Regions from separate parts of the Homo sapiens genome. Here all the other regions are linked to region 2. The links come from fine-mapping of genetic effects on plasma protein levels. A gene starts in region 2. Each other region holds a variant in brackets. All regions are shown on one strand. Distances are between the middles of the regions.

Region 1 (8,000 bases), 1.2 Mb after region 2:
AACATTTTTTCATTGATTCTTTCTCATCTTCAGGAGTTTATCCAGCTTTGATCACAGAAGCTGCTGACCTTTGGATGGGTTTTTTTGTGGGGACTTTTTTGTTGACGTTATTGTTATTGTTGCTTTCTGTTTGTTTATTTTTCTTTTAAGAGTCAGGCTCTTCTTTCATAGGCGTGCTGCAGTTTGCTTGGGGTCCACTCCAGACTCTATTTACCTGGTTCCTTTCCACACCTGGAAGTGTCACCAGTGGAGGCTATAGAACAGTAAAGATGGCTGCCTTTTCTTTCCTCTGGGATCTCTGTACCAGAGGGGCACTGACCTGATGCCAACAGAAATGCTACTGTATAATGTGTCTGGCAACCCTAATTGAGGGTTCTCCTCCAGTCAGGAGGCACCGGATGTGGGACTCACTAACTGAGGCATGTTGGCTGCTCCTTGGTGGAGGAGGTGCACTGTGCTGGGAGGAATCCCACTTGTCTAGACTGCCCAGATTCCTCAAAGCCAGCAGGGGCAAAGACTAAGTCTACTGATTTGCGAAGACTGCGGCCACCCCTCCTTCTAGGGGCTCAGTCCCAGAGAGATTAGAGTTCTGTTGCTAAAACCCTGGCTGGAGTTTCTGAAATTCTTGTAGGGAGGGCTTGCCTAGGGAAATGGTGTGGGTAAGGATCCAGCCTAAAGAGGCAATCTGGCCACACTCTGCCACAGCCACGGTGCTGCACTATGGGGAATTCCTCCAGGGTCCAAACCATCCATTTTCCCTGGCATTGCAGGGGAAAGATGGCAAACTGGAGCTGCAGTGATGGCGGCCACCCCTCCTCCCGGAACTCAGTCATCTTATGCAGCAGGCAGCCACAGTGATGGCTGCCGCCCTTCCCCTTGAAAGCTCAGCCATCTTAGGCAGCATGCAGCCACAGTGATGATGGCCACCCCTCCCTCTGGGAACTCGGTAGTCTTAGGCAGTCTCCAGCCGAGTAGCCGCTGAGAATCTGCACAACTCTGCGGTTCAGACCCAAGGCTCTGGTGGCGTGGGCTGACAAGGGGGATCTCCTGATCTATGGGTTGCACAGATCTGTGGAAAAAGTGTGGTTTCCCAGGCAGAGTAGCACCATCACTCACCGCCTCCCTCGGCTGAAGGTGGTAGCTCCCCTTGCCCTGTCTGACTCCTAGGTGGGCTGTGGCACCACTCTGCTTTTCCTTACTCTCCGTAGGTCACACCAACCACCTACTCAGTCCCATTAAGAAGACCTGGATACCTCAGTTCAGTCTGTTTAAATAATTCTTCAAGTTTGCAGGCAACTGAAACTCACCAGTTAATGATTAAGTAGTAGCCGCACCTGTTCCATTTGATAAGAAAGGTTATTTGGAGAGGATCTTAGCTCTAGAAGCCCAATGGGGAGGGAAGCTTGTGGTTAAGTTATTGGAGGCCCTGTGATTTCACCAGATATCCAGTCAGCACATAATTTTAGACATTAGTTCTTAGGCTTTATATCATATAATAAATATGGCTGGAATGATAGACTAGAAAACTCTTGATGTTTCTGTCCTAATATTATAATTTATTAATGAAAGAATTATCAATACATTCTAAAATCATTGGGCAAAAAGTGTTTAAGAATAGAATATTCATGTTTTCAAAGCATCATTGCACATATTACTTGAAAGGTGGAACATGTCCCTTTAAAATGGAAAGATCATACAGTGACAATCTTAACCAAGTGGCTAAGTTTGGCATTACTGATGGTGTAAAGCCTAACTTTTTGTTTCTTCTGATGACATGCAATGGGAGATTCACTACACCAGTTTTGTGGTATTCTTACCAAAAATGTTGACCTCAGTCTAATCGCAAAAAAAAAAAAACAAAAAACAGACAAATCTATGATGGTATGCTTTGCGAGACAGCTACCCTGGGCTTCTCAAAAAGTTAATACTTTAATATTAAATCAAAATATGTAATAATGAATAATAGGGGAAAACATCAACTATTTTAAATTAGATAAGACTAAAGTAACGTAACAGTGAAATGCAATGCATGAAGTTGCATGACAGACCGAAAAGATATAAAGAACATTTACGTGACTATTGATGAAATGTAACGTAGGTTGCATGTTGTATAATTTTATTAAACTGTTTATTTTTCTCAGGTGTGGTAATGGTGTTGTGGTTATATATTCTTGGGAGGCCCATACTTAAATATAATTGTGCAATCTCCTTTGGATCATTCAACAAAACAGTTGTGTGTATGTTTATGTTAAAAGAGAGAAGGAGACAGAGAGAGAGAAAAGGAGAGAGACAGAAAAAGAGAGAGAGTGAGAGAAGGAGAGAAGGAGAAAAAGTGAGAGAAATGAAGTATATATGGAAAGATGTTGAGAATTAGTGATTCTAAGTGAGGATTATGCAGATCTTTATTGTACTGTTCTTTCAACTTTTCTTCAAGTTTGAGGTTTTTAAAAGTAAAAAAAAAAATTACCACATAGCTGAAGGTGAAAACATACCAATTATGGTGGATAAATAACTTAAACAGGGAGTCAGACTTCTGCTCACATCCCTTATCATAATAAAATTGCAGAATCTAAGAGGAAGTGGAATCTTAAGAGATTTTAGAAGAAAGGCAGTCTACAGAAGACAAGCAATTTAAACAGGCCTCTCAGCAACAGCCATTAGAAACCTAAATACAATGGAATGTAACTTCAGTGAGCTGAAATAGCTTAAAATTCTGTACCTAGCCAATACACTTTTCCTGAGGGTAAAATATATGTTTGAACAGATAATCTGGGATAAGCCAAAAACAAATACTCAGTAAAATAAATGTTAAAGGTATAATGTAAACAGAAAAAAAAATCCAGATGTGAAAGTAATGATACAAAAAGAAATTATGAGCAATTATATTGGCAAAAATGTGACTAAATCAAAGCAAATTATGACTATATAAAGCCAAAGTAATTTGAAATTTTGTGAAGAGGAAAAATATCTTTCAAAAAACTGATTAAAAAATTATATACACAATAGGAAGGGGAGTAAAGTAACTGTATACTATGGCTTTTGAGTAGTTTGAAGAGGGGTAAGTTAATTGTTTTTAAATTAGCATAATCACAAAAAATATAGATGCAAAGTACAAATTTCTAAAAATAGAGGAGAAAAATAGAATAAGAAAATAGGAGGCACAGAATTGAGACTCCAAGAATATGAAAAATACAATCCAGGTGATAGAGTAAGATTGGGCAACAGTGACAGAATAAAGATTGAGGAATAGGTAAACCAATGAAATATATTGTTAGGAGAGCATTTCCAAGACCACAAAGAAACTTAGCAGCTCTCAATTATAAATAAAAGTTATTTTATGATAATACTAAAACTCTTATTGAATTTATGAGTGAGCCCCGAAATAGAACATGTTTCATAGGCATAAGACTTGATTAAATCACTATTTTCTCTAGGAGGGAGGCCCCTGTGACCTGGGGGGAAGCCTACACACAGCTCTCACTGATGGACAAGAACAGTGGCCATCCCAGTCAAACTAAACTTGTGTGAAGAAAAATTAAGCCTAGACATCACCAGTCTGTGACCTCTAGTACCACCCTTGTACCTGTATCACATTCTACTGGTATAACTCAAATATAAGTTCAGAGTGAAAGCACTGAATCATGAAACTAAGAGGGTAACCTGTAGAAGAAGAGCCAGAGATCTGATTGCATGTTAGGCTTCACTCTAGACTGTAGCCTCTGAGGATTAATAAAATCTTTGGAATGCAAAGATCACTTTTCCTCTGAATAAGATTTGTGAAATCTCTAGAATTATGCACTTTCATATACATCTGTGGTTCTGCCTAATTTTAATGGGTACTGCCTTCTGATTCTGTGGGAAGAAAATATCATGGGACTTTGAAATCCGTCAGTTGATTGCACATTTCTTGTTCAGTCAAAATTTACTTAGAATTCCAAGTGTGCATTTACTAAAACTGTGCTTGAAGGGTTGGTAGTGGGTGATTTTAATTCTCTAGTATTATATGTGATTGCAGTCTGGAAGGCTGAACTATTTTGGTGATGGCCAACCATGCAGTAAGAAGGTTAACACAATTTGCAATGGTAATCTCTCTTTCATCTACACATTTCAGTCAACCTTGGCATTATCTCTAAGGCCGAATCCAAGTGCCTGTAAGCCAGAAGCCTTCAGGAAAGAGCAG[C/G]TGTTTTTGTGCTCTCTCACATCTTGAATTCTAGGTCAAAATGTCATGTAAAAGTTTTTTCACTAAAATATCTATATTGATTTCTAGGAATAAAATAGAAATGCCTGGAGGATTCTGTGTATTTTCCCTGTAAGTCACTGAAATATCCTGGTAGGCCATCAAGAAATAAAATGGATTTTGTCTCCATTGTATGATTGAGTCCTCCCTTGAAATCCTTGCTATTATCTGGACCAACAAATGTGTAGAGTCCAGACTAAGAGTGGAGTTGATTCAGTGTATGTATCCATGGGATTTTGGTCAACAAAACAGGACTACTTAAAGCCTTGTTGGGTAGGGGTTTATTATAGGAATCAGACCTTACACAAACACGGAAGCACTAACTGAAGAGAAAGTGTTTAAGGGGGACTGGGATGATCAGAGAAAGAATCACTGGCTGGTTTTCCTGAAGCGCTGACTCAGGTAGACAAGAAGCCAAGCATGCTCTACTGCCAAAGTAGGACTCTGAAGGGGGCACTTCAGCAAGGTCTGTAGGAAGATGTTGTCTTTGGTGGCCACTACCACTGTGAGTCCACAGCCAAATGCCCAGTGGTAGGTTTGGGGCCACCATTAGTCAGCAGGGCCAGCTACTGAAAAGGTGGACTAGATTCAGAGAAGAGGAGAATAAGGATACACTGAGTCTTGCTGGGTACCCCTCTACGTATCTTAGGCATCTATCTTATGAAAACCTTCTGAAAGTAGTAGCTTCTGTTTCTCTTCTTCCTTCCATATCTCACTGAACGTCTCTCTTCTGGCCAATTCTAATGTAGAAATATCAGGAAAGGGTATTGGGAAATGTAATACTCCATATTTGCCTGACATAAGCAAGATAATCTAGTTAGAAGCTGGCAATTTCCTTATAACCTAGGACAATTAGGAAGTAGAAATTAGAGTCTAAAGCAGTCTGCAAACTAGGAAGACAGTGGCAAACAGGAGTAACAGGAAACGAAGTCAGGTGCAGTAGACAAACATCTGTCCTGGTGTTATAGGTTGTGCCAGTATATGGGAGGCTGAGGGTCAGAAGGTTTATGCAAAGAACCAAAGCGAAGCAAGATTTACCTCTGAAATGACAGGAGGTCACAGGTACATGAAACTCAAATGCATTACAGGTTTTTTTTTTTCTTTGTTATCCAAATATAAAGAGCAGGAGATAAATTTCATCACCTTTTGAGGTGTTTGTTAAAACATGTAGATTTCTGAAACCTCCTTGCAGACCTAGGAACCGGAATCTCTAGGGTTTTGATTCAGGAATCTGCATTTTAAATACAATCCTCAGATGGTTCTTCTGTGCAGTCTAGTTGGGAAATATATGATTCGCAGAGTGACAGATTCATGCTAACGTCATGTCAGGTACTTACTGATCTGCTTCAGCACTGAGAACAGAGACTGAATTAGAGGACCAGATATATAAGTGATTTTTTTTTAACTGACTCATACAGTAGATTTTTTTTTTTTTTTTAGAGAAGATAAAATTCAGGCTGGAGATGGCAAATAAATTATTCATGTCACCTACCTAGTAAGTGACTGGGCCTATACTCTAATTTAGATCTACTTGACTCCAAAGTGTACCCTTTGAGTGTTGAATGGAGTAAAAGGCTTCAGGCTTGCAGAATTACTGACTTGCTTGCTAAACATTCATCAGTGAGACCCCTCAGGGAAGGAAAAGTAATACTGGTCTCCTATTAAACTAAGTCTGTGTGGATTTCTAAGAAAAGTCCTGGAGGCCAACATTCCCCCAAATAAAAGAACTAGTAATGGAGGAAGGCAGGTCCTGAAAAAATCACTCCCAAGAAAAATGAGAACTTCACACTCGCTTTGTTTTCTGCCCCCTCCTCCTCCCTCTCTGTGGACCCAGCACTTACAACTACTATGACCTCTTCCATCTTTATGTGTCTTCATCATACCAAGTATTCCCCTTTCTTATCTGAAAAAGAAAAAAAAAGAAGAAAGGAAAAAAAAAAACGACATCTTGATCTCGTTTATATGGAATTAATTTTACAGTTAATAAGTAAAACCTAATATTTTTTGTCTACTTTTTTGGGAGCAATATGGTGAACTCATATTGGCAAAGTTATTTAATGGTTTTATGAAGGAATAGATAAGTGTGAGTGAGAAAGTGTGGAATCAGATCGCAGCTGTAAAGATAAGCTGAACTATGGCAGCGCAATGTGACCCCTAGTCCTTGCATTCTAATTTAGGTTCTGCTGGGAAGCTTTACGAGATTATTGAATACCTTTCTAGCAATTAGAGCTGGCCTGGATGGTTCCGGTTGCCTTGGGAATTTGGAAATTCTTCTATGTGAAAGATGTTTCTGCAGGAGCTGATCATTATACACCGATGTTACAAACAATTAATTTATAAAGTACAAAGTTTCAATTTCACAGTGTTTATTTTGTTTTTTTCTGTTAGCTATCTGTTCACCAGATAACTATCATTCTTTCCATATCTTGTGGAATTCCTGCTAGGACTAATAAGATAGGAACTGGAAAATAGCTTTGAAAATAGAATAATTACTTTGAAAATAGAATAATATGTATTATATGATATACATACAGGAAAGTACTCCTGCAACAGCAACAATTGTACTGATTCTAATATCCCAAATCCAGCGGCTGCTCTTCACCCTCTCTCCTAGCCCAAGCCATCATTTCTACCAGTTTACTACCACAGTCTCTTAAATGATCTGCCTGTGTTCTGTCTGCTTCCACAAGAGTCCATCGTCTACTCAAAGTTGTTCAGATCCTGTCATTTCCTTGCCATAAGAGGAGAATCAGGACAAGTTTTGCCACGGCATCAAGGCCCCGCGTGATTTGTCCTCACCTGTTTTCCCAGTGTCATCTCCTCACAGTCTTCCTTGGTTATCTGCATTTCAGCATCACAGACTTGCTTTCTAGTCCCCAAATGTGCCCACCTCATTTCCATCTTTGTCTCTGCTCTTCCCGTTCATTTCCAATACTACCTCTTCAGAGAGACCTCTTTAAACCAGCCTACATAAATGAACCCCACTCTCTCCCTCTATCCTAGTATCCTGTTTAGTCTTTTTATTACCGTACTTATCACTGTCTGAAGTTATCTACTTATGAGTCTCTATGTGTATTATTAGTTTTCTGCTATTATACCGAAGTGCAAGCTCAATAAGGGTAACGTCTTTGTCTTATATCCTCAGTTCCTAGAAGAATGCCTGTCAGATACTGGGTTCAATGTGCATGTGGAATAAATGAATGGATAAATGGAAGGAATTCAATTATATTTGACATTTGGTAGGCAGCCAGATTCAGTGAAATTATGGAATACTGGTGCCTCAAAACAAAACCTTTTCTTATGTCATTTCATATACGATAGTGTTACCAAGTATCAACCTTTTCAGCCACACAGCCTGAAATAATGAAATGGAACATAGTAGTTGGACTTGGAACCAACTTCTGCCTTAAGCAGAAAGCTCATGCAGAATTTAAAGCGATTATTAAGGAAAGAAAATCCTCTTCAACACCCACAGAAAGATAGGGCATTGCTTTTCAAGTCATAAGATTTTCAGTAATTAGATAGGAGAATTATAAATATATTATTTGCATGTTACACATTCCTGTAACTCTAACCATCCAAATATGGTTTCTATATTCAAAATAGGTAGCAATTTAAATATAAATGAGACAATGCCTCATACATACAATATAATATTTAACTTAAAACACCGAGATGGTTAATTCCGTGTGTCAGTTTTGCTAGCTACAGTGCCCAGATATTTGGTCAAACATTCCTCTGGATGTCTCTGTGACAGTGCTTT
Region 2 (8,261 bases):
GGTGTTAAGATGAGGAGATGATCCCTCAATGGTCATGGAGGGATTTGAATTTTCTACAGTAGATTTCAAAAAAATCAGGGAAACAGCCCAATATCCTTTCAGATACCATTCTTATTGACTAGAGGCCTGGGCTTGCCTAACTTTGCAATCTGTAGGTCATCACTGTGACCAGCTAGTTAGGGCTTGGGCAGATGGGACTTGAAACAAAGAGACGGAAATTGGTAGTAGAATCCATCTGACACTTTGACTTTTTTTTTTTTCTAATGGGATATTTTCATTAACCCCATCCTAAATTTCTATTTCCCGGATCAAATGATAGCTGGTCAAGGAACATCGTGGGTTATATTTTCTGAAAGCGTTAGCCATCTTAATTTTTTTTGTGGGAAAGGTGGAAGGGACTCACTCCTAACTTTTCCCAAACTGTTTGACAACAACATATTTTTATACGGTTATCATAAGTGTTGATTACATTTGAAATTGGTCCTTTGGACTAAATTGTCTAAATTTTCTAGTTCAGTATGATTTACTGTATAGTGTTTCTTCAGCAGATCTAAACCTTAAAAAAAACTACTTCCATGTGACAAACCGTGATGCAATTTTGCAGCTGTTTTCATTCTAAACATATTGAGCCCAATATATCCCAATTAGAAGAAATGTATATGAATTATCCTTATTAAGCGGTATTTGTAATTCTCTAGCACTTGTCTAAATTTCTTTGGTCTCTATTTTCTTCTAGTTGTACATTCCAATTGGCTACATTAAGATACAGCAGATTTTACAAAATAATGAACAATTTATACATGTTTTAAATAGAAATGTTTAAAAATTACTATGGTTTTCATTTCCTTGATTCATGAAATGATAATATAACAGAAAGGGAAAACAAAATCCAAAATGAGATTTGGGTCATATGTTTTGCTCTGAACACTTGATTTTTCTTTGGAACTTGGAGTTTGATATAATGTGGAGCCTGGAAAGGGAGCATATGGTGTATACGAGGCACTCTTTTCTCTTACTGTGATTTTTCTCTATTTTCAAAATGCAACTTTGGGAAAAGATTTTAGGTGGATTCTGGCCACCTACCTATAAATGGTAGTGTCAATATCTTTCTTGGATCCTGCTGCCATCCAGGTGGGGGTAGAACCTTTTTGAAAAATTGTAGAAAAGGGGTGAAGTCTCATGTGATTATAGTTGTAGAAATCCAGCAACTCATACCCTCTTTGTGGTAGGCATATAAATGCTGTCTCTATCAATGTGCCTGGAGAGGGTTCCTTGAAGTACTAGTGGCTCCTTCCATCCTGTACAGTTCTTTGATGGGGATGGGATACTCTGAACTCTTGGACTGCTCTCCCTCCCTGGGCTCCCCAGATAATTTAGTTTGGAAGTTTCTTAGATACCTAGTACAAAGTGCTATCTAAGAAAGGAATTAAGCCAATTCTACTGGTATAGAACATTCATTTATTCAGAGATTATCAAACTGTAAACCACCTGATGAAATGTTCATAGGTTTTTTCATTGAGTATTTTGTATGTTTTTTACTTCATTACTTTCTTCTCTTCTCTTTATTGTTTCCCCCCTATAATTTATTTGAGTTTATTTTGCCATTCTTTTTCCAACTCTTTGATATGAATAATTAGCTTATTAATTATTAATTTTATGCTTTTCTGCATTTCTGGTATAGGTACTTAATTATATACATTTTCCTTTAAATATTGATTTAGCTGCATACTGCAAATTTTCTGTGTTGTTTTCATTATTGTTGAATACAAAATGTTTAAACATTTTTAATATACTCTTTTTGTGATTTATGAATTATTCAAAGCAATGCTATTCAAGCAAAATACAAGATAAGCCACAAATTCCAGTCACATTTGTGATTTAGAATTGTAAACTTCAAATCATGAGATTTGTTGGCCCTATGGCTGCCTCTGGTTGTGCTCAATATGATGCCTGGATATTGCTACACCAGATTCTTGCACACAGCCTTTTGCCTGGTTCTTATTGGCTCCATCTCTTTTCCCATGATTCTCCTGATTTCTCCAATACTCTTGCCATTAACTTTTGTGGCTGCAAACAGTCTGATCTTACTTCTGTCACATCCTTACCTCCACTTTGCTACTCAGAACTATAACCTTCTGAAACTTAGCCATCCTCAAACATGTGCAGACTACTTTGTCAGAATGTTTAGATCCCTTTTCTGTTTTACAAGAGAAAATATGTGTTTATAATTATGTATAAATTAATTTCACCAAACATTAATTTATTTCATTTCACATTAAAGTTTATCTGTAATATTTTAGGCTGTTCATAAAAGCCTCCTGAATGTAGTTCGTTAGTTCAATCTTATAAACCTAGCATTTCATTAGTAGGATACATTTCTGATGAATAAATACTGTTGGTTTTCAACATCAAACACTTTGCAACAAAAGTTGGAAAAGAGTGTCCTGCATTTACTCAAGACTACTGGATCTTATTTCCAACCAGGATATATTTATTCTAGTTAGTGTTGATGTGACAATGGGGACTGGTGACTCGGAAAACTTAATTTACAAATATTTATAATTTATTTTGCCTAAAATGACATTAGGGACAGAGAGGTGACCATTTGGGGAGTTAGACTGGCATGAGCTAACTACCAGTTTGTCCCAGGCATTCAAAAAATACGGCTTCAAGGAAAGCAATGGTCAAAAATAAAGGTTGAAAATAAAAACATTGTCTAGCTTTGGTGCGATATCCAAAAACTACAATAACTATTGTATTTGAAAACTTTTTAAATATACCTTAAGCTTTCTGCCACCTTACAGAAAGGACAGTCTCTTGGCTGGCTGTTATGGCTAAATTTTAAAAATATCCATAGGGAATATCAGTCCTTCAACCTATAGATATAAAACCCCCAAATTCTGAAACTGCCAACAGTCTTTTTTTTTTTTTTTCCACAGCATTTACTTGTGTTTTGATTGCAAGAAGTACCCAGGAAGGAATAAAATTTAGTAACAGAATGAGGATGTTATGATTTTTTTTTAAACTGGGTTAGGGGTGGGGAGAGGGAGAGAGAGAGAGAGAAATATTTTGCACTGGAAAAACTATAATCTGGAGAGACAGAGGAGTTGAGAGTGCCCCTTTAAACTGCAGGACTGCAATTGATCTCTGTATGTTTTCTGGTTTTCGTCCCTTTGAAAGGGGAATGAGAGCCAGGATCATTGGCTGTACTGTGGAGCTGTCACATCTCCATACTGAAAAGGTACACTGCAAGTGAATTTAAACCGTTTTTGGCTTTCTATTGCATATTGCCAAGAGCTTTGAGACTGATGAACCAAGTAAATGCTCTATTTAGGGCTAAGTGAGATACAGATTCCTCCAATCTGATAGCGTTTCAGCCTCCGGAGTGAGGAAGCAGCAGAAACAGAAGCAGCAGAAGCAACAGCAGTAGCAGCGGCAGCAGCAACAGCAGCAGCCCCTACTGAAGTCCAATAGAGGAGACTTGATCTCTAGTTCATTCTGGAACTCCGCCTGGGATTGTGCACTGTCCAGGGTCCTGAAACATGAACCAAACTGCCAGCGTGTCCCATCACATCAAGTGTCAACCCTCAAAAACAATCAAGGTAGGATCTGGTTTTTCCCTCTGCTTCTGCACATGTGTCTTCATTCATCTACCTAACACATGGGCATTGATATATCGGGGTACTGACAGTGGACATACCTACTTGATTTGAGTTTGAATTGAAGGTTGAGTCACAATAAAGCATTTGGCTCTGCATGTGTGTGTAGACTGGAAAGAATAGTTTCCACTGAACACTTCTTTCATCTTCATGACTTTTTTTTTTTTTACTGAGAATCTATCAGAGGTATATTTCCAGAAGAAAGTTTTGTGAGTGTCTAGAAGAGTTTCCAGTCCATGCCAATTTTCTTGATAGAACTGGGGAAGAATTTGCAAACTGCTAGAAATAAATAGCATCAAATTGACTACAAATCTGATAACAGGATTTCATTGTCATATGAATTTTGGATCTCTTATCCTTTTTTAAAAAAAGCTCATCCTTCATTGTGAGCATTGAACTGGTGGTTATACTAAAGTGATTATAGTGAGAGAGGATGAAAGACTAGAGAGAGAGTATAAAATCACATGTCTTTATTTATATCACCATGTAACTCAAAACCAGTGAGATGATTGGAGACACTCTTCAATGCAGGTGTTGTTTAAAATTTGAGGCTTTTCTGACAGCACATGGTTAAAGGTAAAGAACAAACTCACAATTTCACTCTTCTGTTTTAGTTTCAAGTCATGCTTATACCATTCTCTTTGTTTTTATTCGGGATGCTCTTATTTCCAAGAAGGCTTATAAACGACCAGACTTCCAATCAAAGTTTACTATATTTTGCCATTTACTTGAATTGTATTATTATCTATGTGGATATTTTGCATCTTGAGGGAAAGTGATGGATTCGTCTGAAACTCTTTTATGAAAAAAAAAAAAAAACTAAAACAAAAAACGTGATATCCTGACAGGGCATCTTTAGTTACTGCAATCTCTCATTAACATACAAGTGCATACCTTTTGCTACTATTCCTGATAAGCCTGACTTTTTATGATTTATATTATGTTTTGGTTTATGTCTCAGGCCTTTAATAATATTGCATAGACTGTAATTACAAAAGGAATATAATTTTCAACAATGTCTCTTCTTCATGAATTTACCTACCGTTTGCCAGAGTGTTTCAGTGATAGATAAACCATAAACTAAACATGTTCCTCTATTTATTAGCAGTGACTTTTAAAAGCAATGGGGTTTCCAGGGTATATTAAATGATGCATAATTAGATTCCCATCATACATAAACATAGGGAGTTAACTGAAATCATGCAGAACTCATATTCAGATAATTTACACCACCTCTAATAACAGATATGAGAATCTTTTTCAGCATTAGATTTTCTGTGCTGTATCTAAGTTTAGAAATAAAAAATGTTGAGCTTTTGGTATAGTTTTCCTCTGTGTATCAGTTTCCCACATACATCAATTATCTAAGCATATCACTGAACAAAGCCAAAATAGTAAATACATGACACTCTACATTGGGATATATAAGCTCTAGTGGGAAATATGTATTGAAGCCTAAAGTGGGATAGAGTTACAAACTGGCTGCCTACTGCTAAGTATGTCTAGAATGCTATAACAAAACCAGTGGCTTTCTGTTTAAGAGTCTGAGGTCACAGGAATCAAGCATTTATTTTCCCTTTTCTTTATTGAGTAAGCATAAATGACTACTACTTTCAGAGACTTCAAATCACTTCCTTTATTAGTGCTCTGGCATTGGCTGCCCACAAACAAACTGTGGAACAGAAAAAAAAATGTTTCTAGTGTAGAGGTTTTACATCATCTTGCTGATCTTGCAGATGCTGTTTTTTCCTTCTAACTGCAGCCATTGAGTTGAAATGAAAAGTATCATAAAAATTGGACAACCCACCACTTAACAATGTATTATATTAATGGCTTAATGAAGGAATCTTGAATCAAAGCTCTGGGTAATTTGGTTAATTGTACAAGTTAAATTCTTTTGTGCACCCCATTCCCAATATTGCTCTGGGGAGCAAAAAAATGCTTGTGATGTTCATAAAATATATATAGTCGCAAGCACTGAACTATTAAGGGAGTAATTACTTGAGTATTTTGCAATTTGCAATAGTGAAAAGGGATGAGTGGAAAATCTCTCTTAGTTCAAATTATGTGCTCAATTATGAAACATTTATGGCTTTTTGAATTTATACTAAAAATGGCTATCTATATTTAGGTAATGCATTAGCCTATGAACAAAATGCAATAACAATCTAAAGAAAAACTCTAAGATGAGAGGGTTTTGGGAAGCTGTGGGACATTGGAGCTCAAAATACTCTTTGAACTATTAGAATTTTAGTTTCAAGCATGGTTGTTTAAAGTTAATTTTATTCCTCACTCTTAAATTTACTATCAATTTACTATCAGATAATTTTAAGTAACCCTCCCTCATGGAATCTGGTTGGCCTGCAGGTAATGATAACCCACTTTGAGGATCTGGAAATAAATAACTTGCATATTGCTCCATTTTAGAAATTCAAAAACCTCTAGAGACTTTTCTCCCAAAGCTCAGTGTAATAACCTCTAGAGAACTTTTCCCCCATCAGTATAGTAAATGCTGACTGTTTCTTCTCTCAACAGTTAAACTACGGCTAAAAAGAATGCAATGGGAATGAACAAAAGTGAAATGCATTGCTAAAATAGCTGTAAAGGCCAAAAGTGTGCAGGAGGAGGAAAAACAGCTCTGTGTGTGTGTGTGTGTGTGTGTGTGTGTGTGTGTGTGTGTGTGTGTTCTCCTCCACTTGAAGTTCAAGAAGTGATGAAGTCTATAGTGGGTAAAATTCAGCAATTGTTGCCAGTGAAGGCTGTTTGTGGCCATGATGTGTCAGAGTTGGAAAAGAGGAAATTGGGAGAAGTTATAATGGAACAAGATGATCAAGAGTATTCAGGTTGCTTGACACTTGCTTTGGTCGTTCTGGCCATTCTTTAGCTCAGACAGTTACTGACACACTTTTCCTGGCATACTTTGGCAGGTATGTTCCTATCGTCAAAACCAGTAAGGGAGAGAAAAGGGAGTCAAATAGGGGTGCCAAGTGTGTTCTCAGATCACTTTGGGTGAAATGCTGAATGCAATTCACTCTGAAAACTTTCCTCCATTTCAGAGCTTGTAAGGGAAGAAAGCTTTTCCTGATGTGATTACAAATCTTCCTGTGAAGGTAGCAACATTCTTTTAAAAAAAATCTTTTACTCTGAGATGTTTAATGGAAAGTTTTAGGAAGTATCTGGGAATGCTAAATAGAGATCAGATCTTTGCGTTATTATAAACGTGATTTCTGAAGAATGTCCCCCACCATGGGTAGCAAACTTGAGTTTTTCCTTCACCATTATGGCTTCTCTTGGCTGCACTGAAAGTAAATTAAACCTTTCAGCTAAATCTCTGATCTTGGTTTACTTCTTTTGCTAGTGGAATTGCAAACTTAGAATTTTGCCTCTAAAATGTGCAGATTTTTTTCTTATTTCTTTCACATTTGAATATCAGTCTAGTATCCTCGTGTGTCTAAAATGAGTAGAGAAAATCCTTCATCCTTTTTGAAGTTATAAATTGTGAGTAACTTATCTGGGGTGGTGATTCCTGGATCAAGAATTATATGTATTATACTTTATATGGTAACTCTGAAATACAGTACACAATATTTCTTTACCCTTCCCATGTAGTGACCGGTCTTCCTCTTTCTCTTTCCTTTTTACAAGACCTGCCTGATTTATTTTAATACTGCCTTCACACCCAGGTTTTCACTTCCATTTAGAAAAGAGTCTCAAGGTCTAAAAGTTCTAGTTACTTCCTACATAGCCCTGCTGCAAGTTTTTACAAACTATACTTAAACGAATCTTTAAGATTTTCATTGTCTTCGGAGTACATCTTGAGCTGGCAAACTTTTTCATGGTGATTTTTACTGCCTTTTATATTGTAATATTGATGAGTCATTGTGCTAATAAAGACTTTTCCCCCTTGCTACTTCTAATCCATAGCCTCAGCCAAATGAGGCATAGGAAACAGAAGACAAGGGGTTAAAAGAGGATGAAAATCTTATCACAAGTATGTATTGTTAAATACGTAGGCTTGGAACATGGTGGTTAGGAAATAATTTCGTTAGCAAATTGGTATTTTGGAGTGTGACATTGCCATGAATTGGCATGATGAGATGGCTTGGAACTACAGCATTGCAATCTCACTGGTTGTTAAATTTTTTTTTTTTTTTTTTGAGACGGAGTCTCAGCTCACTGCAACCTCCGCCTCCCAGTTTCAAGTGATTCTCCTGCCTCAGCCTCCCGAGTAGCTGGGACTACAGGCACCTGCCACCACGCCTGGCTAATTTTTGTATTTTTAGTAGAGACGGGGTTTCACCACATTGGCCAGCATGGTCTCGATCTCTTGACCTCATTATCCACCCCTCTCAGCCTCCCAAAGTGCTGGGATTACAGGCATGAGCCACCGCGCCCGGCCCACTTGTTGTTAATTCTATACCCCTAACCTAAATGCTGGACACTGACAAACCTGCGTTTCACATAGTACTTGAACTTGAATTGTAAGTTATTCTTAAAGGGTATTTCATAATTAAATATATAAATTATATCCACAAAAATTTAGAAATGCAAGGAATGTTTAATAACAAAAAATCTACCTCTGTGTGTCATTGCAATATGCAA
Region 3 (8,234 bases), 1.4 Mb after region 2:
TATTTCCTAAATCTTGAACTTAACTTCTTCCTCTTTAGGGTGGGTTCCACTGAATGATTTGCTTCAAGGGTACTATATGGAAAAAGAGAGAAAGAGGAACTTTACAGTGGAGAAATTTGACAAACATCACATCAACAGTGACAAGTCATGTTATTACTGTTATTAAATGCCCTTGATATGATGTAGTGGGGATGGCACTTTACCTCCATGGTTTAGTACTCCAAGCCCATACATAACACCAGTCTAACCATGAGAAAACCATCAGGCAGATCCAAATGAGGAAAATTCTATCAGATATCCAGCCAGCACCCCTCAGAACTGTTGGGGTAATCAAAAAAAAAAAAAGTCTAAGAAACTCTCATAGACCAGAGGAAGTTTAAAAGACATGATGTCTAAATATAATGTGGGATTCTGAATGGAACCCTGGAACAGAAAGGGTACACAGGAAAACAACAATAAGAACACCAACAAGAAAAACTAGTGCACCCCAAATAAAGTGGGTTTAGTTAGTGGTAGTATATGAGTCTTAGTTTCTATTTGTGACAAAGTATATAATAATATAAGATGTTAACAATGGGGAAACTGGAGGACGGGTATCCAGGAACTCTGTACTATCTCTGCAACTGTTCTGAAAATGTAAAGCAATTATAGTATTAATAGTCTATTAAAGAAAGAGGTAGATGATACAGTACCAGTGTTGGGTGAAACATGATGAAAGAGAGCGTAAAAATTTTGAGGGACATTTGGATGTTGTTCTAAGGTATTAAGACCTTACATATATATCAACAGTAATAAAAATAAATAGCAATTATGTACTCATTGTATGTCAGAAAATGTGCTAAAAGCATTTAATATTATCTTATTTGTACTTCTTGCAAACACGGAATAGTAGATGTTATTACTTTCATTTAACAGATTGGGAAAATAAATATTAGGAAATGATATAACTTCCTTAAAAGAGTAGACACAATTGATTAGTAGGAAGGAGATTTGAATCCATGTATTGAGCCTTTTATTCACTGTGCCCTGAAGCCTTATTCATATGAATAAATTATATTCAAGGTTAAATTATTGTATGTCTACCCATCATGCTGGACTAATATATTAGTGCTATTTCAAATTTCTCTGTCAATATGTTGTAGCTATAAAGGTAAATCATTGTTCTATCTGACTCACTCAGTCACAGGCCTGGCGCTTCACCCATCTAATAAAATACAAGCAGAGGTTCAGCCCTGGTCCCTGGAGAGGAAATGCACCTGTGAATGTGTGTGAGCACACACACACATAGGCACACACACACAGGCACACACATACACATACCACACAACCCATACGGGCCTGGTGAATTATAGGTGCTCAGTCATGACACTGTAACACCACTACTATTAATATTATCTTCAAAAATTACCAGCAAATGAATTCAATCACCCAGTCAAACCTGTAATGTTCCCTTTTAGCTATAGTAAACAGACAAATAGCAACAAATATCAATGGACTTTGCATTAGAAACTAAGCAGAAAAAAAATCCAATTGGAAAAATCCTTTTGCACATTTATTTTCAGCTGTCTCCATGCAGACAAATAAGGGATCACATTACCTCTGTCATTGACCTTATTAATTAGCATTTCTAGAAGCTTACATTTATAGAGCAGTTTGTACTTATGTAGCAATGACAAGGTCATTTTCCCATTAAGTGCCATAGGAAGATGTTGAAAAAGATCTTGACTATCTAGTTTTTTAATAGGTTTAAATGATTGTTTGCCATTTTACATTCTCTGCTGTGTGGTCTGATTATTCAGCATTCTAGAGTTAGAGCATTAAAGAGGCTTAAACTATTGATAAGGCTGCCCTAATTTTGCAACGACAATTAAAAATGTTAGCTTAGGCTGGGCGCGGTGGCTCACACCTGTAGTCCCAGCACTTTGGGAGACCGAGGCAGGCAGCTCACGAGGTCAGGAGTTTGAGACCAGCCTGACCAACATGGTGAAACCCCGTCTCTACTAGAAATACAAAAATTAGCTGGGCATGGTGGTGCACGCCTATAATCCCAGCTACTCAGGAGGCTGAGGCAGGAGAACTGTTTGAACCTGGGAGGCAGAGGTTGCAGTGAGCCGAGATCGTACCACTGCACTCCAGCCTGGGCAACAGAGCAAGACTCCATCTCAAAAAAAAAAAAAAAAAAGGCAGCTTAAACATGAGTTACAGAAATCTGAAGATACACAAACTACAGGAATGAACACCCTAGACAGAATGTGAGCCAACTTCTGCAGAAAGAGATTTGAGTGACTGCACCAAATCTTCATAGCTACCAAACCCATGGCTATTGGGCTGCTTACTTCAGAATCTTGGATCTTAGGTTCTGGCAGAAGGAAGATAAAGCAAGAGTAACCAGTATGCTCTATATTAAATAGTTAGTCCTTGTATAATGAGATGTGTATTCTATTTTCTCAGTATGGGGTATTCTTTTCTAATTTTGAATAATAAAGCAGAATGCCAGTATCCAACTGAGACTGTGCCCTAGTAATCTTCAAAATGAAATAGATAGCTGGTTTCCTGTATTAATATCCAGAAAAGACATTTGCCATATTAAAATTTTTTATAAATTTTATAAAATTTATAAAAATATGTGTACCATTAGGAATAATAAATACTATCCAGTAAAGTAAATATAAACACCATTCTGTAGAGTAAGTAGGACTTAGTTGTAGCTACTGTTTTGCTTTTTTGTTTAATAGAGTGAAGCTCAAAGTTTTACCATTGTATTTGTATTTACCAGCTTTCTACCTAAAGCCAGATATAAGGTTTTTTGGTTTTTTTTTTTTTTTTTTTTTTGAGACGGAGTCTTGCTCTGTCGCCCAGGCTGGACTGTAGTGGCACGATCTCTGCTCACTGCAAGCTCCCCACTCCCGGGTTCACGCCATTCTCCTGCCTCAGCCTCTCGAGTAGCTGGGACTACAGGTGCCCGCCACCACACCGGCTAATTTTTTATATTTTTTAATGGAGATGGGATTTCACCGAGTTAGCCAGGATGGTCTCGATCTCCTGACCTTGTGATCGGCCCACCTCGGCCTCCCAAAGTGCTGAGATTACAGGCGTGAGCCACCGTGCCCAGCCAGATATAAGTCTTTTAAATGTGCAATGTATGTAAAATAAAACACTGAATCTCTTTGAAAAATAATATGAAAAAGTTCTCATACAAGCAGTGTGTTTCTTCAGATATCATAATTTGATTTCTTGCAGCAAAAGTTCATTTCCAACACTCAGCAGAATTAATCAAGCACCTAATAAAAGCTGGAGTGAATTATACTATG[C/A]AGGTAAGCTACTTTCTTAGAAGAACGTGTTTTCCTGCTGTGTTTTTTCACTTGTGAGATACGCAACACAGCTTCTCTATTATTCCATTCTCCCTACTATTATTTTTTAATATGTTTTTTAGTTACCAAAGATTGTGTTCTCTGTTCCTGATTACACCGAGAATGTGGATGAACTCATGCTTTACAAGTGAATTGCATGAATCCTTTCTAAATTGTCATTTTCCTCTCAGACTTATTCATATCCCAAATATTGAATTCTTTTAAAAGTAACAAGTTTCTACTTCCCTTCTTGTTCCTTTTATCTTTTCTTCCTTTTGTTGTTCCTTTCTTCCTTTTCTTGTTCCTTTTGTCTTGTTCCTTTGTCTTTATTATTAAATATGAGAGTTTATTATTAATTTATTTTTAAATATGATAATTTATAATTCTCATAATAAATAGTGGATAAAAAATGTTTGGGGAAATATTACAAGAAAAGAAGAGAGGATAAAAGGCCATTTGCACTACCATTTATGTCTGTGCATTCATACATTTAATATATATTTATCAAGGACATTACAGTGGTCACTCTGCTCTATGAGTAACAAGACATACATTACACTGTCAAGGAGGTTCCAGTCTGATATAAGAGTCATAGAAGGAAAAAGTAAAGTCATTTAAATTTCTCAGCATTCAGAAGAACCAAAAGTTGCTCAACCTGTCTAAAACACAAACTACCACGTTTAGGATAATGAAATATGAAGCTATACAGATAAACAAATGTCAGGTCATTCCATAAGCAATGTTGAGGAGTATGGAGTTTTATTCAAAGGGCAATGAGGCGCCATTTAAACCTTTGTACTCAGGAATTAATGGGATAATATTTGTATTTTTTATTTGTATTTTAGAAACAGTAACAATTTTGTTTACATTGGAAAGGGAATTGTCAAAGTAAATAATTGCACCAGACAATGTTAAAGAGGCAAGGAAGACCTTATGAAAAACTACTGCAAAGGAGACAAAGACTGAACTCAATGCTCTTTAAATAAAGAGCTGGAAAGTTTTCTAAACTAAATACTCCTAAAAAGGGGAGGAGAGGCCAAGGGCCTTTAGTCAAAAAGAAACTGTCCAAAGTTTAGTCAAGCTGAGGGCAAGGTTAGTCCATCTCAGTCAACATAAACATGAAAAAGTCTACCTTTTATGGCCAACATATTCTAATTTAAATACCAAATATTAATTGACATGATTACAATTGTTTTAAAAGTTTAGCATGAATAACTTAGAGTAGAATTAGGTTTGATTTTGGTCAGATATTATTACTCAAAGTTTCCATGACGTTAGGGCTCAGAAAATGAATGCGAGAGACAATAGCTTCTTGGATAATTTGAAATCTTCTTTCTCCTCAATATCTTAGGTCTACCCAGATGAAGGTCATAACGTATCTGAGAAGAGCAAGTATCATCTCTACAGCACAATCCTCAAATTCTTCAGTGATTGTTTGAAGGAAGAAATATCTGTGCTACCACAGGAACCAGAAGAAGATGAATAATGGACTGTATTTATACAGAACTGAAGGGAATATTGAGGCTCAATGAAACCTGACAAAGAGACTGTAATATTGTAGTTGCTCCAGAATGTCAAGGGCAGCTTACGGAGATGTCACTGGAGCAGCACGCTCAGAGACAGTGAACTAGCATTTGAATACACAAGTCCAAGTCTACTGTGTTGCTAGGGGTGCAGAACCCGTTTCTTTGTATGAGAGAGGTCAAAGGGTTGGTTTCCTGGGAGAAATTAGTTTTGCATTAAAGTAGGAGTAGTGCATGTTTTCTTCTGTTATCCCCCTGTTTGTTCTGTAACTAGTTGCTCTCATTTTAATTTCACTGGCCACCATCATCTTTGCATATAATGCACAATCTATCATCTGTCCTACAGTCCCTGATCTTTCATGGCTGAGCTGCAATCTAACACTTTACTGTACCTTTATAATAAGTGCAATTCTTTCATTGTCTATTATTATGCTTAAGAAAATATTCAGTTAATAAAAAACAGAGTATTTTATGTAATTTCTGTTTTTAAAAAGACATTATTAAATGGGTCAAAGGACATATAGAAATGTGGATTTCAGCACCTTCCAAAGTTCAGCCAGTTATCAGTAGATACAATATCTTTAAATGAACACACGAGTGTATGTCTCACAATATATATACACAAGTGTGCATATACAGTTAATGAAACTATCTTTAAATGTTATTCATGCTATAAAGAGTAAACGTTTGATGAATTAGAAGAGATGCTCTTTTCCAAGCTATAATGGATGCTTTGTTTAATGAGCCAAATATGATGAAACATTTTTTCCAATTCAAATTCTAGCTATTGCTTTCCTATAAATGTTTGGGTTGTGTTTGGTATTGTTTTTAGTGGTTAATAGTTTTCCAGTTGCATTTAATTTTTTGAATATGATACCTTGTCACATGTAAATTAGATACTTAAATATTAAATTATAGTTTCTGATAAAGAAATTTTGTTAACAATGCAATGCCACTGAGTGCTATTTTGCTCTTTTGGTGGAGAAGGCTTTTTTCAAAACTCTTGGTCCTTTTACTTCTTTCTCTCAGTGCAGAATCAATTCTCATTTTCATCGTAAAAGCAAATAGCTGGATTATTTCATTTGCCAGTTTCTATTTAGTATTCCATGCCTGCCCAATTCATCTGTTACTGTTTAATTTCAATTCTTCTGGTGAGAATTAGAAATGAAATATTTTTTATTCATTGGCCAAAAAGTTCACAGACAGCAGTGTTTGCTATTTACTTTGAATTGAAGGCACAAAATGCATCAATTCCTGTGCTGTGTTGACTTGCAGTAGTAAGTAACTGAGAGCATAAAATAAACCTGACTGTATGAAGTCAATTTAAGTGATGAGAACATTTAACTTTGGTGACTAAAGTCAGAATATCTTCTCACTTCACTTAAGGGATCTTCCAGAAGATATCTAAAAGTCTGTAATAAGCTTAGAAGTTCAGATAAATCTAGGCAGGATACTGCATTTTTGTGGTTTTAAAAAAGTCCTTAGGACAGACTGAATTATCATAACTTATGGCATCAGGAGGAAACTTTAAAATATCAAGGAATCACTCAGTCACCCTCCTGTTTTGTTGAAGGATCAACCCCAAATTCTGGGTATTTGAGTACATGTGAATCATGGATTTGGTATTCAACTTTTTCCCTGGATGCTTTGGAATCGTGTCTTCCATGCTCCACTGGGTTCAATTTAAAATAGGAGAGGCTTTCTCTTCTGAAAGATCCATTTTAGGTCTTTTTCAAGAATAGTGAACACATTTTTTAACAAAATAAGTTGTAATTTTAAAAGGAAAGTTTTGCCTATTTTATTAAGATGGAAATTTCTTTTTAGGCTAATTTGAAATCCAACTGAAGCTTTTTAACCAATATTTTAAATTTGAACCACTAGAGTTTTTTATGATGCAAATGATTATGTTGTCTGAAAGGTGTGGTTTTATTGAATGTCTATTTGAGTATCATTTAAAAAGTATTTGCCTTTTACTGTCATCATTTCTCTTGTTTTATTATTATTATCAATGTTTATCTATTTTTCAATTAATTTAATACAGTTTCTAATGTGAAAGACATTTTTCTGGAACCCGTTTTCCCCTTAAACACTAAAGAGACCTCAAGTGAAAGCATATTGCTTAGTAGGAAGGTAGAAAATGTTAATCCCTGCGATTCTTTGAGTTTTAATGACAGGGTCATTTTCAGTAAAGGAAATGCTCACCAACACATAGTCACCAACTATTAAAGGAATCATGTGATTGGATTTTCCCCTGTATACATGTACCCTTGGTCATAATCCCACTATTTCATACATATTTATGCATTGCTAGATTTTCCTAGGACTCCAATAGCATGCTTTCCAAGTGTTATTATTCCCTTAATGTTAAAGAAAAAAATCAATATATTGAATTCTTTAATTAAATAGGTAAGCAGTATTAAATCATCCACAGAGATAAACAATCTCTTGAAACTCTTTTGAAAGAGAAAAGTGTTTGTTCACTTTCATTGCCTTCATTAAGATCTCCAAATACTCAGAGACTAAGCAGGCTATTCTCATCTCTTTGAGTTTCCTGACAGAACTAAAGGAAGGAATCACTCTTCAAAAGATGGATCTCACTTCACTCTGAAAATGTGCCTTTTTTTAATTGGGTGTTTAGCATAAAAATCACTATTGGGGATCTTACAGATGTCTGTTGTAGATCTATTACAATGAGGTGACTTAGACATTGGGCTTTACCATATTAGAGAATTACTTAAGCCATTGTCCTTCAAATGTTGGGCTTGGAGACAGAAGTACCTTGGACTGAATTGCTTTCAAGTCTCTAGAATCACTGACAGCACATAGCTTCTATGAGGAGTTATATATGAAATACCACTTGTGTCCCTCCTCAAGTTCTCTGACCACCTTCACATCCTGCGGCCACCAACACTGTATGGATACAATCTGGCCTCTCAGCTCTGCTCACTTTCACTTTCTGTTCTGGGGATTCTCTGATACTAATTTTGGCTACTTGGTAGAACCAAGAGACAAATCGCTTACATGCTGCAAACCGATGTGAAGGTGTTACTAACCCGCTAAAACACAATTAATGAAAGACTGTAGCAGGTAACTGATCTTTCCCTCAGATATTCTACATGGTCCATGGAAGACTCTGTGGGCCGCAGAAGCCCATAGCTGCATACCCTTCTATTTTCCTCTTCCCCATTTCACTCTTTTAAGCTCCCTACTCCTATTCCCTATGATCACTTTCCAAAATAAACGGCAGGTGTGCTAGCTGTTGTCTTAGACTCTGCTTTCTGGAAACTATTTTTCCCCTCCACAAGAAATTATCACTGTGAATATTACAGGAGGAGAAATAAAATAAGAATAAATCAGTGGT

Which allele goes with the higher level. Positions count from the first base shown, and alleles are read on the strand shown. Strength reflects both the effect of a copy and how common the allele is.
For the plasma level of the protein whose gene starts at base 3,405 in region 2, allele C in region 1 goes with a lower level than allele G (weak association).
For the plasma level of the protein whose gene starts at base 3,405 in region 2, allele A in region 3 goes with a lower level than allele C (moderate association).

The links. PIP is the posterior inclusion probability: the model's chance that the variant is causal. Protein levels are from antibody-based Olink assays in UK Biobank. Linkage for the fine-mapping came from a reference panel and not from the study's own genotypes, which makes the PIPs less certain.
Region 1: its variant is fine-mapped to the plasma level of the DPP10 protein (UK Biobank, PIP above 0.99).
Region 3: its variant is fine-mapped to the plasma level of the DPP10 protein (UK Biobank, PIP above 0.99). The variant lies in the coding sequence of DPP10. If it changes the protein, the assay may bind it differently, which can mimic a change of level.

Annotation. Positions count from the first base shown.
Region 1 is chr2:115,634,302-115,642,301 of GRCh38, forward strand. The region is part of intron 5 of DPP10 (dipeptidyl peptidase like 10); the gene reads left to right. Among named protein-coding and RNA genes, the nearest start is that of DPP10-AS1, 480 kb to the left of the region's middle. The variant C/G (reference allele first, on the strand shown) is at 4,181.
Region 2 is chr2:114,439,237-114,447,497 of GRCh38, forward strand. DPP10 (dipeptidyl peptidase like 10) reads left to right here and starts at 3,405. Exons shown (of 26, transcript NM_020868.6): 1 at 3,405-3,602. The coding sequence starts at 3,543.
Region 3 is chr2:115,837,510-115,845,743 of GRCh38, forward strand. It overlaps DPP10 (dipeptidyl peptidase like 10), which reads left to right. Exons shown (of 26, transcript NM_020868.6): 25 at 3,241-3,314; 26 at 4,702-8,234. The coding sequence ends at 4,836. Among named protein-coding and RNA genes, the nearest start is that of DPP10-AS1, 680 kb to the left of the region's middle. The variant C/A (reference allele first, on the strand shown) is at 3,312.